Homo sapiens: one gene and its partner. The protein of the gene in region 1 interacts with the protein of each later gene in a pairwise test. Each region holds a gene or a part of one and is shown on either strand. Other genes may lie near its edges.

Region 1 (7,287 bases):
GGCGAGGCTTGAGGTGTATCTCTGGCTCTATCTTCACCCATAATGGATGAACCATAGAGATGAGTTTTGGCTAGCGAGAGTAGTGATTCCAGGTAATCCATCTGGAATCCGAAGAGTACTGACAAAGGAAGAAGAGCAAGGCTTCCCACGCTCCTCCAATTGTACTCCTTCAGGAGCTGCTGAAAGAATCCACGGCTTTCTCCATCCCGGATTCCAAGGCTCTGGGCCTTCCTGAAACCCAGAGAAGCAGAGGAAATCGCTTCCTCCTGCCAAGCAGCCTGCTGCCGGCCTTGAGGCCGGCTAAAGGGAAAAGCGATCAGGTCCTTCTACTCTGTTATGGGCAGACTGAGCAATTGAAGCTAAGGTTCCATTTCAAGGAATTTTTTTTTTAAAGAAATTAAATCAGATCTGACAATGTTTGTACCGCGGCGTAAATGCCTTTGCCTTGGCGTGCCAGTCACCTCTAAGCGCTCTGACAAACTCAAACTCTCTTAAAACGTGCAGAGTTCAGATCATATTAATTCCTCCAAAATGTTTTGATTCAAAGTAGTTTGTATTTTGTGTAGCCACGGGCAATCAGGAAAGCGCTCCTGCCTGCCCATGGCCGGGTCCGCTCCCTCTTCGCGTGGCCCAGAGGCTACCGCAGTGTTTAAGCTTCTGAAATTAGCCTGGGGCTGCAAGGCAGAATGATCACAAAGCGAAACAAGGGCGCTTCCCCTCTTCACTTTTTTCATTTTTTCCTCTCCCATCCCCCGCCCCCCCCTTTTTAGTTGCCATCTCGATTTCACAAAACAGACCAGGGCCAAAATGTCACTTTCCACCCATGTAAGGAAAAGCTAGGTCTTCTCATCTAGCCCACTTCTGAGGTCCACAGCCCACTACCCACTTGTACCCCCACCCTGCGATTCCAATATGGATCCATTTATTATGAGCTTCATCATCACCATCGTCATCAACATTGTTCACTTATTATTAAATACTCAGAGCAGGAAATGAAAGGGACCGGTGTCTGGCAAAGGGGAGGCGGCCATAAGGGAGCCTCAGAAGATTCAGGGGGGAAAAAAAGAGTGAGATTTTCTTTCTTTTTTTAATGATTAAAAACACAGACGACTCCTGTAAATAGAAGCCTCATTTCTTCAAGAGATGCCTTTTGAAACCCGATATCTGAATATTCAACGAAGGCAAAGCTCCACTCTGTACGTACAACATTAATATGATCTCTGCAGAATTTGCTACTCAGTAATATTAACATATCAAAGCCTACGCCCGAGGCGAAAGAAGCTATCGATACGCGAGCACAGGGTAAAGTAAAGATTATTGGTTCTGATGGTTGGAGAGCCGGAGCTGCGGGCAAAATCGCGTACACCATTAACCGAGAGTCAGCACGCAGGGAGCTGCGCCTCCGAGGCAGTGGCAAATATTTTATCTAGGTGGTAATTACCTAGCTGCTGCCCCCTCTTTCACGCATTCTTTGGCTATCGGGCCTTCATTACAGGCTAAAATAATGTAATTGCCACTTAACAAAATGAGTCAGGGCGACGCTATTTTGTTCTTTACAAGTTGAAGTCACCAAATGTGAAGAACAACTGAGAATGCCCAAGCCCTCCACGCCACTGCAAACCAGGACAATGTCCCTGATTAACTCATGTAAAGTACATAGTCACCCATATTTCTTCAAGAACATCATTTGGGGTCTTTGGAAGTGGAATCTATTTTTTTCCCTCCCATAGTACATTCTAGAAACCATTAGAAATGTAAATTAATCCGGGAACTTAGCAGAAAAGAGAAAATGGTGAAAAATTGTGCTTTGCAATAAATCATGTTTCATGTGGTGGGTCAAGCATGAGCTGGAAAAGAAACAGACATTCTTAGCTTTTAGACAGTATCGGGTTATATGAAGTATAGCAGTATAGCAGCACTTGAGTTAATGTCTTCCTGATTTTTGGTGAACACAAGTAGTCTGAGCTGTTGATATTAGGGGTCCTGTGTACTACCATGACAATTGAGAAAATAGGCTTCTTTAGGGTTTTGTAAAAGGAAGTTCTGAGATGAGGGGCTGGGCAGGCTGCAGCAAAATATACGCCCTCTTTTGGGAATACACTTCCCTGCTATCCACTTGTAAATTGACATGAACATTGATTGTTTCAGAATAAACAGACACGTATAGACACACACCCTCCTCTCCAAGGCTCAACTAGGTTAACTGGCCTTTCTCTAAGACACGTGGAAATGGAATAAACTCAGCAGCTAAAATCTGAATTCCTATGAAGAGGGGTTTAGTCAAACAAGACAGACGTAAACCCCAAATTACATTCCCTTTCTCTCTGGAGCTTCACTAGTCTCATATGACATCAATATTTGGTTTCAAGTAGCAGATTCGACGATGATTTTTAGTTGAAACGAATAGGGACCGAATTCTACAGGAATAATAAAGCATCACCTAAGGAAGATAATTTCTGTGGCTCTGATAAGGTAGCTAACATTTTGGAGATACCTAAGAGCTTTGGCCTTTCTTGGGAATTGAGTGAGGGGGTGAGAGGGTGTCCCTTAAATCTCTCCCCAGAAATTCAATTGATTCCAAAGCCTCTTCCTCTCTAACTCCCTCCTCGGCCTCAAGTAATTCCACCCTCTGTCAGGTATCTTACGCTCAGATGCAGTTTCCAAGCATTTCAGAAGGTGATCTTGGTCAAGTGTGAAAGCGAATGCAAAATTGCAGTAGCAAGAGGCCGGCTGTGGGAGAAGCGGGCTCCCGTCCCTAATTAGTGGCGCTGTCCTTCAGCACCACCGAAGTCTCTAAGCGCCCTGAGTGTTCTTGCCTCACCTTATTTTTACCCGTCCCAACAGACCCCTGATCAGCACATCTCACCTGGTCCCCTGTTCACTGTGTAAATCTTTTTTGCCTCCTCCAACACAGTGCATTCAATATTCATCAGTCTTGGGCCTATTTTATTCCATTTCAATAGGTCTGAGTACCAGCGTGGCTGGCAAGCTTAATATTCCTCATTTAAAAAATCTTTGTGGAGTTATACCACGTATATGTGTGTGTGTGTGTGTGTGTGTGTGTGTGTGTGTGTGTGTGTGTGTGTGTGTTTTAATCTCCATAGGGTGAAACAAGAAGTGTTGAGCAGCTCTTTTAAATTTAATGTAAACTACCAGCATCCACTAAAACAATAACCAAGTTCCAAAAGGAAAGCACCCTTTGTTTTCTTTCCTCCTCAGTTTAAATGGAGTTTACATTGGACATTGGGATGTAAAATCTGCAGTTTAAACATGAAAGAAGCAACTGATTTCTACCAGCACATCTCTCTATCTGGAAAAGCAAATCTTTCAAGAAGCTTTCAAAGGGATGGAGAAGGGCTGAAGGACACTTATTTGGTCCCATCAGAAGAGACTCAGTTTTTAGTGTTCTGTTACTGCAGACAACTGTGGCCCTGAAGCAGGAATTAGTCTTGGTGAATAGACCACATCTTATTAATTCGTATGAAGTTAGGATAACAGCTGGTCCCTCTTGCCTTGTGTGCTGCTCGGGTTACTCAGCTTGCTAGAAAAATAAACTTCAGAGGCTTTGGGTACAGTTAAGTAGGGGAAGCTAGCAAAATCTGCACTGCCTTAAGGCTCTGAGAATGTCATAGTTCAAAACCTTTTGTCAAAATGGAACATCTGAGATGCAGCCCCCTTTAGTGCCCGAGCTGAAAGCAACAGCTCTCTCCTCTCCTCTTGCCTTCCCCCACCTTCCAATTCCATGGGTAACTCTGGATTCAGATGTTTCCCTCAACAGATGGGAACAAGAAAGCTTTATCCAGTACAGTTAACACCACCTCCTCCTCCCACCTTCCCTTAAAGAAAGAAATGTCCTGGACACTTAGAAAAATAAGGGCAGCTACAATATTGGTGTTTCATTAGCCTCCCCTGAAGCCTCAATGATCTAGCCTTTCACAGAATCCCTAAAAGCCTGAAGCTAACACCATCATCTCAAACACCCAGGCTGTGGCTAGCACATTTAGGGCTTAAAAAGACCAGAAATTCTGCTGGAGGATGTGGTATTAGTGCTGGGGGAAGAGGGTGTGAGAAACTTCTTTCTTTCTTTCTTTCTTTCTTTCTTTCTTTCTTTCTTTCTTTCTTTCTTTCTCTCTGTCTTTTTCTTTTGTCTTTCCTTCTGCCTCTAACTTTGATTCTGTCACTGTTCTGTGAGGAGCAACAAATATCTCCTATCACAAGTCTTATGGGCATAGCCTGGGTTCAAACCTTGATGAAAGAAAGGAGGCTTTTTAATGTGGATATGCCAGTGTTGGACTAGAATAATTGACTAAGCATAATTGTTTTCTTAATCATCAGAAAAGGAATCTGAGCACAACCAGATCTTCTAAACAAAGTAAGAGATAGGAGAAGAATGTCTAGGGTTAACATGTTGTTACTTGTTACTTACCTCTTCTTATCACTCCACCTTGGCCATTGAGAACAAGCCCACACTGGGCCTCCACAGAGCCCTTAATAAAAGAAACAGAAATAAAATTACTTAAATGGATACTCATATGCATGACCACGTAGGTAAAGTCTTTTAGACTAGCCCATCCCTGAACTCTGTTTCAGTAGACATTTGAAAGCAAGCATTGAGCTGAAGCAAGCTTGCCAGCAAACACAATTTTTTAAAAAATTGCAAGAAAAACCACAATCTAAAAGTTGTATAAATCTTAAGGTATGCATTTTACATCACCATACAATATTACACTTCAAAGTGCCTGGGAGTCTTTCATCTTGGCATAAGAGAATGAGAAGCCCTTTGAGTCCCCATCAAGGCACACAGCGTATATACAGACAGTGTACACTCAGCACTTTCTGAGTAGAGCAAATTACACCTAGAGTGTCAAGTCTGGGACTGTGGGTTTCTTGAGGACACAGAGGAGCTACTTCATATGCAGGATACAAGATGTCTTATGGAGGTTCTGTTTTACCCCAAATGTAGGAACATCCTGTAATCCTACCCAAAATGGGCCGTATGAAGGAAAAATCTTCAGGTTCACTCACTGTAGGCCTTCAAAGTCCTAATGGATTGAGGAATCCCTAGAGCTGGAAAGATGGAAAGAGTTTGCTGATTTTTGATTAGGAAAAATAAAAATTTCTCCCTGTCTGTCGTTTTCTTTTTTCCCAAATCAAAATGTGTTAAAGGCTCATTTTCCTTTACAAACAAACGAGGTATTGGACATGAAAGAGGCCTTGAAGGGTGTTAACCTACCCAACAGCCCGTGAAGAGTTAAGTAAATGCGGAGAGAGTCGGTGCATAATAAAAACCCACTTTACAAAACAACCTTTACAACCCTGGCTCCCTTTCGCCTCCCCATTTTCACCATATTGAGGCAGGCCTGTAAGACCCCCCTTTTCAACCTACTCACAAGCTCTTTCTTATTTTAAATGTTCTGCCTTAAAGTGATTATCAAATCAATATGAAAAAAAAAAAACTTGGAGACTGAGCATAAATTAAAGCGGTGATGGGAAAAGGTGTGACAGTTTCCTTTGTTGGCCATAGCAAATCTTTTTAGGGGACTCAAAGATGGAACTGAAGCCACAAGACTGTTTGCATCTGTTAGGCAGACTTAGACCGCCCTCCAAACCATTGGACTTTCACTTAAAATTCTGTGCAGGGAAAAGTATATTTACATTTGTTGCATTTGAAATGAGGCATATGCTGATGAATGTTTTAAAAAGGAAGAAATAAAAGGAGAGAGACGGGTTTCTCCCACACACTCCCTCCCCATTTCTTGTTTTAAAAGTAGCTATGACTCTTTCTTTTTCATTCTGCCAACTTGGAGCAAGAACAGTGGAAGAAAATAACTTGTCAGATTTACAAACTTGCTACATAGCATTCATAGATTAAATAGATAAAGATGGATATATATTATGATATATACATACATGGATATATCTATGTAAAGGTATAAACGTATATCACACACAGTACTATATTTCTTCTAGTATCTTGGACTGTGTCCCTTAGTATGAGTAATTTTGCTTCAGTATGAGTAATAAAAGAGAAAAAGGACATTCGTATATGGAAAAAGAGATAGGCTGAAGAAAAGCTTTCAAAATATCTGAAATGTAGATGATAAATGGTCTCAAAGCTCTCCAAAGCAGTGAATCACTTTCCCTCCCACTCTCTGGCGCACGGTTACAATGTTTATTTTCTTAGAAGAAACGAATCTTGGTTTCTTCACTTAACAAACTTTTTCCCCTCATAAGTAAAACATGTTGTTTGGTCGGATGACATTGCATAAATGACCAGTTGAATGGCACTAAGTCGAAAATTGGATAAACTACGGTGTCCTTTTGCACGGGATTCGCTCTTTGTCTAGTGCTTGCAAATGTTCTAATCCGCTCTTTTGAAAAATGCTCGGCTTTGTGCCTAGCACAGAAAAAAAATTTGTACAGATACAAAAAAATCAGCAGCAGACGCGGCTATTAAAAGGAGTAAATAGGTTTTAGTTGAGCTAAGCACTGAATGGCAGATTTTTTTCCCTCTTGAGACATAAGGGGATCCTTGTGAAAAATGTAAAAATGCCCTGAGCGTATAAAATTATTTTGTGAATATAAATGTAGAAAGTCAAGGTTTATGGAACCAAATCTTTTTTCTTGTGCACCGGTCTTACTGCTATGGCTCTTTGTTGGGACTGTAAGGGCTTTCACTTTAATTTAAAAATAATCTCTTGCTCAAAGGTAAATGAGGAGGAAAGATTTTTTGTGCGCAACAAGGGATCTCTTACGTCTCCAACTTATGTTCTTAGAATATTTCCCTATTTGTCCTGGAGAGTGTGAAGAAGGTGGCCAGCTTTGTGCAGACACAAAAAGTAGGAACTCACAGGTAGAACTGCACTTTTAGCTAAAAGGAGCTAAAACTATGGGTCTTTTGAATTATTTTCTGGGTATTTGTGGGCTCATTTGTTTGAAATATGCCTATGGCAACATAATTGCATAATTATAAATTCTATCTTTGGTAAAGAATGTGCAAACACGTGTTAAGAAATAAAGTAGAAGAGAGATCATCTGATTGAGTGATGGCCTCCACAGTGTCTGAATACCTGCCTTCTTTCCTTCCTTCTTCTTTTTCTCCCTTCCTTCCTTCCTTTTCTCCTTCCTTCCTTCCTTCTTTATTTTTTCCCTCTTTCATTACCGTTACTGCCTCATTTTTATCTTTTTAAGGAGGTGCATTTTACGTAAAATGTAATGGCTGGAAGAGCAAAAATAAACTTGTAAATTACCTAACTGGGCTGCGGTTTTGAGTGCACGTCAGGCGGA
Region 2 (5,902 bases), on another chromosome or scaffold:
AAAATAAACCCATCTATCAAAAAAGGATAAAAAATAATATGTGATTTTAGTAGTTGGCTTCCCTTTATTGATCAAATCTTAGGAACTCTTAAAGATAGAGTTTCATAACTAAGTCTATTTAGTTCCAATTCTTCCAACAACATGAGGGGTTCAAATCTCCCCAGAGCTGAGTTCTATAAACAGTAGGAAAGGAGAAATGAACCAAAATGGAATCTTGTCACTAAGGAAAAGAGAAAAGAAAACATGTTTTAGCATTCAACAGCTAAGAAATATTCCTGTTTTATAATCAGCTTTGAGAAACGCCAACAATTGCAGTATATCTGGGTTAAATACGGGACATTTCCAGGGAGTTTTTTAAATTGAAATATCAATATAAAAATAAAAAATGGTTAGGCATCACCCTATCCTGGCTATATAGTCTGAAATCAGAATAAAATTTGGTTAAAGTCAACCATTACGGGTTTAAACTGATTGATGAATTCAAGAGCATAAAAGAGAAGTGAAATAAATAACCAGGACAAAAATATTTATGCTGAAGGAAATAGATTTATTAAGAGACTGACAGAAAATCCCCTTACTACCCACACCCAATTTGTAATACATTAATGTTGATGTAGAAGCTAATAATACATGAGCAGAGCAACCATGGGAGGCAAACTACTTTTTCACTGTTAAAATTCAAGTATGACCAAAAAAATGCATCTTGCTTCCTTTGTCTGTAGATGAGTATCAGTTCAGCACCTGAGTCCTGGGTGACTTGTCCAACAGCATCAAAGACAAAGACCACAGCAAGAAGTCAGCAAGAAGATGGAAGATGTATCACCCAAGCACATGGGAAGGTAGGAAGACAGTCATTGCTCTTCAGGTTGTTCTGTGCAGAGAATTAATTGAGAGTCCTGTAGTCACTGGAGCCATTGGTCCATCAGTAGGTGCTGTAGCCAAAGCCAGAGCCAGAGCCCCATGGCCTATAGAAGCTACCACCATAGCAGCCGCCCAGGTTGTTGATGTTGCTACCACCAAAGCTGTAGCCCAGGGAGCTGTAGCCATTGCATCCACAGCCATAGTTCAGGGGAGAGCCCAGAGGCACAACACAGTTCAAGGGGGTGGCTCTGAAGGTCCCATGGAAGTTGGTCCCATAGATAGGGTATCCTGGGAAGTAGCTTCCACAGCAGAAGTAACGAGTCATGGTGGCAGCAATTGAGAAGGATTTAGATGGATTGTGAAGGGTAAGTTACCCAAGTGTTAATGAAGGTCTCTTCCCGTACAGGGCTTTTTATACCTCAAGCTGGTGGGCACAACACATCTGTCTAAACATCTTCCCACTAATTTGCATAGGTAATCTCATTCTTTTCTAATAAAATGCTTATAAGGAATGCACAGACTCATTGCCCACATTTTTGTTGGCTTTTCTCTGTACTATTTTAAAGCCAGTGACCATGCTTGACACGCAATCGAATTCTTTTCATCAGAGTCCCATAGTTTAACTACTGTTCTTGATTGCATCATGTGAGACTCTTTAAATCCTCTGATTATAAACTCTTCCCAACTGACATAGCTAAACTAAAAAAGCTTTGGCAAGAATGCAAACACTTCAAGCCAAGACAAAGCCATATATTGAGGTCTTTTGAACATTATTTTGAAACATCAAACTGAAATTCTATAACCTCTTGAAATTCACCCATGTGCCCTTTTAAAACAATTGTATACCAACTAGTTAATGGGTACAGAGTTTCCTTTTGGAGTGAAGAAAATCATTTGGAACTAGACAATGTTGCAAAACATTTGGAATGTACTAAATATCACTGAATTGTTACCTTTAAAATGCCTTGGTTTGTGTTATACAAATTTTAACTCAAAATGTATTTTTTATTTTAAAAAGCACTGCTACACAAATCTATCCAACCAGGTGTTTTTACAGAGGCTGCAATGGTGCCAAATAATAAGTTGGCTGTGAATAACCTGCAAGTAATTTTCATCAATTTCATTTATGAGCATTCTGTTTGTTAATACATATTTTATTTTTTCATGGAGAACATACCATGTTTGCTTGTAAATCATCTTGAACATTGCCAAACTGTCTTTCTGGAGTTGCCACACTGGCGCTGAGTGGGATGATGCTCAATTTCAGAGTCATGTTATACCACACTTGCTTCTTACTGACTCCTATAAAACAAGCCTGAATGCCATGATCCATTATGAAATACCAGTTATATTTAAGGATGCAACACTTCCTTCTGCTCTTATTTTGCCTTACATAACCAATTCTCATGAAGAACGTAAACCAGGAAGGATCTGAGCTCAGCAAAGCTAAGTCTATTCCAATTCAAAGGTTTACGACATCATCTTTTTATATGTGAATCAAAGTCAGAATTCTCTGAAAGTAGAAGAAAAAACTTCCTGAATACCAATTCCTTTTTTTATTTCCATCTTAACAGACAATCACAGAGTCCAATATGCAAAACTAATCATTCCTCTCAGACATCCCTCTCTCTTTAAGATTCTATCTCTCTCAGTTTCTCTGACAGAGAGCTGCCTAAAGAATGTTCTATAAGTGGATATGATTTCTTTTATTCTACAAATTAATTAAATGTCATAAGAGTATATAGAGAAAGTTAAAGAAAAATAAGTTATAATTTCAAATTCAGTTTAACAAAAAGAATGAATTAAAATGGTAAGAGGTTGTGTCCTCAGGGTTTAAATTATATAAACTCTGTATCAGATAATCCAGAAAACTCAAAAATACGTTTGTGATTAGGAGAGGGCAGGGGTGACTAAGAATTACGCGTGACTTGAAAAATTTCACTACTGATTCTATCACACAATGACATTGGAACCTGTAATTTGTACATGCTGCCACCAGGTGGCAGTGGTATTTCAGTTACTCCGTATAAACCACAGGACTGGATTTAGGGTTCTCAAATGTAAGCAGGTAGAAGAATCTTCTAAAGAATTCGCTTGAAATTCAGAATTCCAGGAGCTCTCCTCTCCCACCACCACCTGAGATTCTGGAAATCTCTATTTGTAATGGGTATCTCAGGTAATTCTGATGAATAAATCATCCTGATAAATTCCAGGGCTGGTTTGTCATGAGAATTCAAAAAAGCTTTTGCTGGGCTGTGTGAAATTGCCCAGAGATGCTTATCTCTCATTGGCAGGAGTGTTTGGTTTCAGTCGCTGGTGACTTATTTCCCTTAACTCTGGATGATAGAGGTAATTAAAGAAAAAGCTTTAGTTTGTCCTCTTCCATTTCTTGATGCTCTCTGCTTCTTGTCTCAGGACACACCTGATTAGAAAGGGAAGGTAACAGCAATGTGTTCAAGTGTCTCCTCAGAGGTAAAACCCACCTATGTGACTGCTGGTTTTGTTACCCATAATCAAAAGAAAAACTTATATTTTCTCCTTAGCTTGTTTTCACTTTCCTATCTCTTACTAGACATACCCAGAGAAAATTATCAGCCAAGTACTCGATTGCTATTCAATGATTTTTAAGATTGATAATAACAAAAAATATCATTAAGGACTTACTCTGTGCTAGACTCTGTTCTAAAGAATTTGCACATACTACTTAATTATATATTTTACCTCTATATATAGTAAGAAGGCTTACTATGCACTATTCCAAGCATTTGACAAGTGTTAATTCATTTAATTTTTATAATGATCTTATGATGTGGGTATTATGATTCTTTATAAGAAAACCGAGTCCAGAGGGTTTAAGAGAATTACTGAAGGTCACATGGTTAATAGTCAGCAGAATCAATCTCCAAACCCATGCCATCTACCTCCAAGCCATGCTCTTAACTACTTTACTATCCTGCTTTTGATATGTCATTAAGGCTTTAAAGGGATATAGCTTCTACATGCCTCAAATCTATAATTCATTGCATTATTTTTTGAAGAACACATCGATCTAGCTTTTGCTGCTAAAAACTAGAAAACAAAAAAACAAAGGCTAGTTTTTGCTGCTATAACAGACAGACATCCAAAATTTCCATGTTCAGAAATGTATTGCCTGCTCACACTATGAATTCCTCTCACATTGGTGACTGTCTTGGATACACATCATTTTCACTCAAAAGACTCAAGCTGACAGTGCTTTGATTATCTGAAATATGACAAACAGGGGAAAATGAATGGGGCAAGCCATGGTAGCTTTTAAAGGCTCTCCTCAAGTGTTATACACCATTTCCACACTCTCCTCATTTCCTAAAGTAAGTTCCACAGCCACATCTAACTTCACAGGTCACGAAGAGCAATGCTACTATGTGCCTGGAGGGCGAAAGCCTACAATGTCACCGAACAACATTAATGACTTCCACTGAATTTCTATTCCTTACATGGGCTAAAATAATTTTAACAGATTTTAACACATATTTCAAAAGATTAGATGAGGGCAGACATAAAAAGTTTTTTAGAACTTTACATATCATAATGTAAAATGGTCCTGATAATTCTAATCCTGAACAATTTTAAATATAGAGGTTTTATAAGTTGTTTGTGCAATTCATGTAATATTAGTCAGCCTTTGGTTGTAGATTAGCATGTAGCTTTAATTCCTTTTCTTTGTTTTCTTTTCTCCATTTCCCCCTAATCACTATGTACTCTAATTGAGGGAAAAGTTGCCATAAATATTAGTTTTACAAAGAAAATCCCTCAATGCCAATTGATTTGGTGGGGGGAGAGATTAGTTCTAACACCAGATTTTATTTGATTTATTTGAATGCATGTATTTTCTTTAAAGAAAAGAGAAAATGAATTGACACATAGTATTTACAAGGAAAAAAATAAGCAATAAGGAGCCTACATGACATATTCACTTGGAAATTTGAGAACTTTTATCAGGCAAGGATCAGACCCCACTCATAGCCTCCCAGCCTCTCCCACCTCTTATGCAGCTGCCCCTATAGGAATCATCTTGGTGTAGGTTCCAACTCACCTCAAGCTGGTACAACATGATGGAGCTTTACATCAGTCCCCTCACCAGATATCTGTCATCCCCCACCTGGGGACTTCACCTTTAATAGCTAGGATAGAGACTGGGGAGCCTATCTAGGGCCCATGCTTGCAAAACCTGAAGTGTAGGGCAGTTAATGCCCTGTGGAGCAAAACTTCGACCAAAAAGAAATGGAAGTGTGGATATATTCTCCCCTTTTCTCCATGGACAGACTTGCCTGAGACAGTCCTAAGAGGGTTAGGCAGCTTCTTGGGGAATAGTGTCATGGAATCCAGCACATAATTGCTTAGCTATGGTCAACTGGATGAGGCATCTTCATTTGAGCACTCCACCTTCCCTGCTTCACTTCCCTTACCCTTCGCTCCTTCTCCTGAAGAAAGCAATAGTACATGAGCCCTTCACCTGAAACTCTGCTTTCTAGAAAACTCAGAACAGAATACCACATCAAACCATCTTTGGAATAGCACCTTTACTGAGATGTAATTCACATATGATAAAATTCACCCAAAAGTGTACAAAAAGTATACAGTGGGTTTTAGTGTATTTATAGAGTCCATCACCACTAACCAATTTCAGAACATTTTCTTTACCCCAAAAAGAAACTCCATAACCACTAAAAGTCACTCCCAATTTACAACAACTAAACTAAGTTCTCATTCATAAGACTTAAGCTGACAGTGCTTTCATTATCTGAAATATTACAAACAAGGCAAGAGGAATGGGGCAAGTGACGGTAGTGTTTGTTTGTTTGTTTGTTTGTTTGTTTGTTTTGAGACGGAGTCTCGCTCTGTCGCCCAGGCTGGAGTGCAGTGGCACGATTTCGCCTCACTGCAACCTCTGCCTCCCGGGTTCAAGTGGTTCTCCTGCCTCAGCCTTCCAAGTAGCTGGGATTTACAGGCGCCCACCACCACAACTGGCCAATTTTTTGTATTTTTAGTAGATACGGGG

What was found.
Region 2: the proteins of TFAP2D (region 1) and KRTAP7-1 interact in binary tests that used the Homo sapiens proteins (3 or more experiments, as listed by UniProt).

Annotation. Positions count from the first base shown.
Region 1 is NC_000006.12:50,716,290-50,723,576, reverse strand, and holds part of TFAP2D (transcription factor AP-2-delta), read right to left. Parts: intron 4,488-7,287; coding exon 4,427-4,487; intron 1-4,426.
Region 2 is NC_000021.9:30,828,513-30,834,414, forward strand, and holds KRTAP7-1 (keratin-associated protein 7-1), read right to left. Parts: upstream 1,248-5,902; 5' UTR 1,187-1,247; coding exon 923-1,186; 3' UTR 527-922; downstream 1-526. UniProt on the Homo sapiens protein: In the hair cortex, hair keratin intermediate filaments are embedded in an interfilamentous matrix, consisting of hair keratin-associated proteins (KRTAP), which are essential for the formation of a rigid and resistant hair shaft through their extensive disulfide bond cross-linking with abundant cysteine residues of hair keratins.